Regions from separate parts of the Homo sapiens genome. Here region 2 is reported to be linked to region 1. Evidence: microRNA targets listed by miRTarBase, many of them from high-throughput screens and not tested one by one. Region 1 holds a microRNA gene; the other region holds the end of a gene's coding sequence.

What was found. The annotated mature microRNA hsa-miR-1288-5p reads GCAGAUCAGGACUGUAACUCACC and lies in region 1 at 2,353-2,375, opposite strand. An mRNA with a match to its seed (bases 2 to 7 or 8) in the 3' UTR can be bound and repressed. Matches are read on the target gene's strand: a 7mer-m8 pairs with bases 2 to 8, a 7mer-A1 pairs with bases 2 to 7 and ends in A, and an 8mer does both.
Region 2: the mRNA of ZNF490 is a reported target of hsa-miR-1288-5p. Seed matches in the 3' UTR shown: 7mer-m8 at 864-870.

Annotation. Positions count from the first base shown.
Region 1 is chr17:16,281,015-16,284,402 of GRCh38, reverse strand. MIR1288 (microRNA 1288) reads right to left here and starts at 2,389; the gene lies at 2,315-2,389. The region is part of intron 2 of PIGL (phosphatidylinositol glycan anchor biosynthesis class L); the gene reads right to left.
Region 2 is chr19:12,577,752-12,580,751 of GRCh38, reverse strand. It overlaps ZNF490 (zinc finger protein 490), which reads left to right. Exons shown (of 5, transcript NM_020714.3): 5 at 1-3,000. The coding sequence ends at 267. Among named protein-coding and RNA genes, the nearest start is that of LINC02926, 28 kb to the right of the region's middle. RefSeq lists an enhancer at 1-828.

The DNA.
Region 1 (3,388 bases):
CTATCATCTTTGTTTTAAACTATGAACTGGCTGGGTGCGGTGGCTCACATCTGTAATCCCAGCACTTTGGGAGGTGGAGGAGAATGGATTTCCCGGCCTTGAACCTGTTTATAAAAGCAACTTTCGGGCTAGGCGCAGTGGCTGATGCCTGTAATCCCAGCACTTTGGGAGGCCAAGGCGGGTAGATCACCTGAGGTCAGGAGTTCAAGACCAGCCTGGCCAACATGGTGAGACTACGTCTCTACTAAAAATGCAAAAAATTACCTGGGTGTGGTGGCGGGCGCCTGTAATCCCGGCTACTCAGGAGGCTGAGGCAGGAGAATCGCTTGAACCTGGGAAGCGGAGGTTGCAGTGAGCCGAGATCGCACCGTTGCACTCCAACCTGGGCAACAAGAGTGAAACTCCGTCTCAAAACAAAAAAAAAGAAAGAAAAGCAGCTTTCATGAGCAATATCCTGGTGGCCACCCAAGTTCATGATGAGGCAGATGCGGGATGTATTTCCCTCTCTATGAGGCAATGCTGACAGACCAGGAAGGGAACTATGAGATAAGGCTTTAAGCTTGATCGATGGATTCTGATTGAAGTTAAGTGGGTTCTTACTCATATTCAACAGCATTAATAGTAATTGCTAACTCCTTAATAATTCAATAAGAGCTTTTGTATAATCGGTGATTTAAAAAGTTTTACAAAATCTTCACACTATTCAATTGTTTAATATAGATTAACATCTCTCTCTTATTTTTTTTAAGAGACAGGGTCTCAGTCTGTTGCTTAGGCTGACCTTGAACTCCAGGTCTCAGATGATCCTCCCACCTCACCCTCCCAAAGTGCTCAGATTACAGGTGTGAGCCACGGCACCTGGCCAGATTAACACCTCTTCTAAGAGCAGTGAGTCTTGAATGAGCATGGCTCCTCAGAAATATCTTTTTTTTTTTGAAATAGGGTCTTGCTCTGTCATCCAGGCTGGAGTGCAGTGGTGCAAACACAGCTCACTGCAGCCTCAACCTCCTAGGATCAGGCAATCCTCCTTCCTCAGCCTCTTGAGTAGCTGGGACTACAGGCATGCACAACCACGGCCAGCTAATTAAAACAATTGTTTTGGCCAGGCACAGTGGCTCACGCCTGTAATCCCAGCACTTTGGGAGGCTGAGACTGGCAGATCACCTGAGGTCAGAAGTTAGACACCATCCTGGCCAACATGGTGAAATCCCACCTCTACTAAAAATACAAAAATTAGCTGGGCATGGTGATGTGTGACTGTAATCCCAGCTACTCGGGAGGCTGAGGCAGGAGAATCGCTTAAACCCAGGAGGCAGAAGTTGCAGTGAGCCAAGATCATGCCATTGCACTCCAACCTGGGCAACAGAGTGAGAATCTGTCTAAAAAAAAAAAAAAATTCTTTTTTGGTAGACATGGGGTCTCGCCATGTTGCCCAGGCTGGTCTTGTACTCCTGGGCTCAAGTGATGCTCCCGCTTCAGCTTCCCAAAGTGCTGGGATTGAGCCACTGCACCTGGCCAGAGATATCTTTTGAAGTAGACATTGCTTACTATTACTGGCTGCTGGACCCATAATAGGGGCTGAGTCCTATGACCAGCCTGGACATCTTTCCCAGCTTCTTGAGAGGTGCCAACATCACATCAGGATATATGTATGAGCTGCATTCTGCACTGACTCTTTCACCAACTTAATGAGCACTCTGGATTCCTTGAGATCATTCTTAAAAAGAGTTTGAGGAGGATACCTTCCTTCCACATGACTAATGCTGATTCATTAACCAGAGAATGCAGGAGTTAGAAGGGACTTTAGGAACCATCTAAGTAGTCCTGTTAGCCTCAGAAAGAGTAATTCTAGGGATATTTTGTGAAATCAACACTGACTATGTTTGGGAGGTAAAATGATTCCTTTGTCAAGGTGTTTGGGTATGGGTGTTTAGGGTATGTAAAATTAGATATTTTACATAATAGTAGTAACTAGACTGGTGAAAAAAAAACAGACCAATTATTTACCTCTAATTCAGCATTCCATTGTGCTATCTCTCTCCTATAACTTAGGCTTTTCTAAGTTGTAAAGAACAAGGATATGGAGTCTTTCTACCTCCCTCGTGCATGTTCACTCTGAGATGCTGGCTATGGTGGGCAAGAAGGAGGATAAGCCAAGGGATGCCCAGCCATTCCTCTCACACCCAGAAAAAGGGAGGGCTTTCAGGGGACTGTGGGCAGGCAAAGCTGAAGGAAATTTGGGATATGTGCTAATTCCCAGGAAGACCCTGTCTGGTGATGCTCAGATAGCTTCTGTAGGGTGAATTATTCTCGAAAGGCAGTGGTCTCCAGATCAGGGCAGTCCACCACTATGGTGAGTTACAGTCCTGATCTGCTGATCAACACCCTCTTAGCAGTGCCCCCATGGACAGCTGTCGCCCCCCTTCCATTGTCTGGGGGCAATAGCAGAATGTCTGAGGATGGGTCTTACAGGTTGCATTGCTCTTGCTCCCCTTTGGCTTGCCTGCTTCATGTCAGATGGGAGCTGTACCAGTGGGCACCCCACCTGTGTACCAGAGCTCCTGCTTCTGCAGGAGACTGAGGCCAGTATTTCCTCCTTGTCATGGAAGATTCTATCACAGGTCCCCTTCTTCTTTCTCCTTTAGCCAGTCTCATAAAAATTTGCCAATATCAGTATCCAATTCCTTCTAAAATTAATATTTCTTAGATGTAGGCAAGGAACTAAGCATTAAATATTGCAGCAGAAAATATACACGCCTACCAGGCTAGGGATTTATAGGGAAAATATACAAGAGAGATCCAAATCACTTCAAAATTATTTCCAAGTGGGTTGATGCTATTTGATGTGGTTACTTAAGAATGTAGACAAAAGATACACTTGCAGTGCTGGCCAGAAGATAGCCTTAGTTATTATGAATGTTGCATCTGGCTTTGCAAAGAGCAAATGCCTAGACACATTCTCAGGGATGGGATGGGATTTGTTAAACAATCTCTTGCATCCAGTCTCTGAAACATAAAAGCCGTTGATATTCTTTTAGAGCAGGTAAAAAATGCTTGGACTTTTCTTAGAAAAGGGAGAACATTCCTAGAATTAGCATCTAAAACATGTCAAAATTTAGCTTGCAAAAATGAGTTCAAAATGAACTACTGTTCTACAGCAATGTTTTCCAATTGAGGTCCACAAATCCCTGAGAGTCTGTGGCTAAATTCTCAGGGGTCCATGCATTCCTAGAAAAATTTTTTACTTAAATAATAATCTGAAACATTTCATGATTATTTCCTTGAAAACTTCAAATGAATGTATGTTCATGTGATTTTAGTGCTTATATTTATACATGTGAAAGCACAAGAGTCTTCTCAAAGTAAGTGAGATTTTTTTTCCTTTTAA
Region 2 (3,000 bases), not on the chromosome of region 1:
AGAGAGAAACCCTATGAATGCAAACAGTGTGGTCGGGTCTTCATTTACTTCAGTCACCTTCGAAGGCACGAAAGAAGTCACACTGGAGTGAAACCATGTGAGTGTAAGCAGTGTGGCAAAGCTTTCACTTGTTTAAATTCCCTGAAAGTACACAAAAGAATTCATACTGGAGAAAGACCCTTTCAGTGTAGACAATGTGGTAAAGCCTTCAGTTACTCAAAGTCTTTGCACGTGCACGAAAGGACTCATAGTAGACAGAAGCCCTAAGAAAGTAAAGTGTGGTAATGCTGTCAGTTGTATTAGTTCCTTTTGGATGTATGAGAGTACTTACGCTGGAGAGAAATTCAAGGAATGTAAACGGTGTGATTAAGCCTTCAGTTGTCCTAATTCCCTTTGAAGACGTGACTCATGCGGCAATGAAATATTTAACAAATGGGGGAGGAACTTGCACTCTCCTGCGGGATTGCAGATATGTGAATGGACTCCATGGACAGAAAAGCTACGAATGTATGGAGTGTAGGAAAGCCTTCACTTCACGTAATCTTTTAAAGACACCTGAGAATATATACTGGAGAGAAACTATAAAGAAAATTCTATATCCATCCCATCTTTTGTGGGGTTTGTTTTTTGTTTTTGTTTTTGTTGAGATGTAATTTTGCTCTTGTTGCCCAGGCTGGAGTGCAGTGGTGCGATCGCGGCTCACCGCAACCTCCGCCTCCCGGATTCAAGCAATTCTCCTGCCGCAGCCTCCCAAGAAGCTGGGATTACAGGCATGCGCCACCACGCCTGGCTAATTTTGTAATTTTAGTAGAGATGGGGTTTCTCCATGTTGGTCAGGCTGGTCTCAAACTCCTGACCTCAGGTGATCTGCCTGCCTCGGCCTCCCAAAGTGCTGGGATTACAGGTGTGAGCCACAGCACCCAACCTTTTTTTCCCCGCCGCACCCCAAGATGGTGTCTCACTCTGTTGCCCCAGGCTGGAGTGCAGTGGTGTGATCCTGGCTCACTGTAACCTCTGGGTTCAAGCAATTCTTCTGCCTCAGCCTTCCAAGTAGCTGGGATTACAAGTGCCCACCACCATGCCCAGCTAATTTTTATATTTTTAGTAGAGACAGTGTTTCACCATGTTGACCAGGCTGATCTTAAACTCTTGACCTCAAATGATCCACCCACCTTGGCCTCCCAAATTGTTCGTTTTACTTTTTTTTTTTTTTTTTTTTGAGCTGGAGTCTTACTCTGTTGCCTAGGCTGGAGTGAAAGTGGCGCAACCTCTGCCTCCCAGGTCAAAGCAATCCTGCCTCAGGCCCCCTAGTAGCTGGCATTACAGGCACATGCCACCACGCCCAACTAATTTTTATATTTTTAGTAGAGACGGGGTTTCACCATGTTGGCCAGGCTGGTCTTGAACTCCTGACCTCAGGTAATCCACCTGCCTTGGCCTCCCAAAGTGCTGGGATTACAGGCGTGAGCCACCACACCCGGCCCCCAGTTCTTTTTTTTTTTTTTTGAGACGGAGTCCTTGCCCAGGCTGGAGTGCAGTGGCGCGATCTCAGCTCACTGCAAGCTCCGCCTCCTGGGTTCACGCCATTCTCCTGCCTCAGCCTCCCGAGTAGCTGGGACTACAGGCGCCCGCCACCACGCCCGGCTCATTTTTTGTATTTTTAGTGGAGACGGGGTTTCACCGTGTTAGCCAGGATAGTCTTGATCTCCTGACCTCGTGATCCGCCCTCCTCGGCCTCCCAAAGTGCTGGGATTATAGGCGTGAGCCACCGCGCCCGGCCTCCAGTTCATTTTAAAACCATGAAACCACCCACACTGGAGAGCCACCTTCTTAAATGTAAGCAATATGGGAACATCTTCAATGACATCTGCAACCATTGTCGAGATTCTTCGTAGGAAGAATTAAAGGAATGGGGAAGAAGGACTTGGGCCCCAGCAGGCCTTTTGTGGCATCCAGTCAGAAGTTAGGAAACACCCTCTAGGGCAGTGCCTGCCCTCAGCTCTCACACATGACTGGAGAGAAGTGAGAAGACTCCCAGAATCTGCCTTTTAAGTTTCCATCAGTGTCCTCGGGTCAGACTGTGGGAATGCTGTACTTCTAAGACAAAGGTTCGCATCTTACAGTTTTTCCCCAAGTGGGATCTGCCTATGCACATCCTAATTCACAGACATTGTCAGCATTGCATTATTCCAGGGCTGTTTTGAGGTCATCTCCAGCTCCATTTCCCATCTCAAACCTACACTTTGGACACTTGTTTAAACATTCACATCTGAATTTCTCTGTGGCAACCGCAGGTGGCTCTGAGGTGAGAGACTGAAGAAGCAGAGCCTGTATCATGGGACACACACCCCTTGACCACACAGCATCCACTCTCCTGCGGTTACCAGCCCTGCACCAACCACCACAGTCAGAATAATCTCAAAACTGCTAGTGGAGTCACAGACACACTCTGCCATGTCTTAGCTGTAGGACACTCAGAATTCTTACCTCCCCTAACTTGCTTTCCCTGTTTTCTGGCACATTCTACCCTGAGATATTCAGCGGCATATGCACTGATGATGCTCCGGCCTTCTCACGTCAGTGCATGTCACATGCATCCTGCTCCAGGACTGGTTTCCTAGCCTCCCGCTAAGACTAGCACTTAGCTCTTCTTGGAAAAGGACCCACCCTGCAGCGCTCCAGCTCTGTTGTGTATGGGAGGTGCTGGTGTCAGGGTTCACAAGCCATGGAACTACCTTGCTTCACATCACAAGGCAAGGTGAACTCAACTCCCAATAAACTGCTTGCTGGAGCCTCCGAATTCTCCGTTTTCTGAATTGCATAGGCACGATAGGGGTCGGGTCTGTCCTTTGTTGGAGTCAGTCCCCCCTTTTCTTAGCAAGTCAGTGTGTTTTAGAAGGGAGGTGGCAGCATTGAGGGAAACCAGGTCACCATCCACCCTCGTAACAACAGTCTCCCTGGGTGGGTCCCAGAAGTGATCTTTGTGTCGCTCGGGTCGGA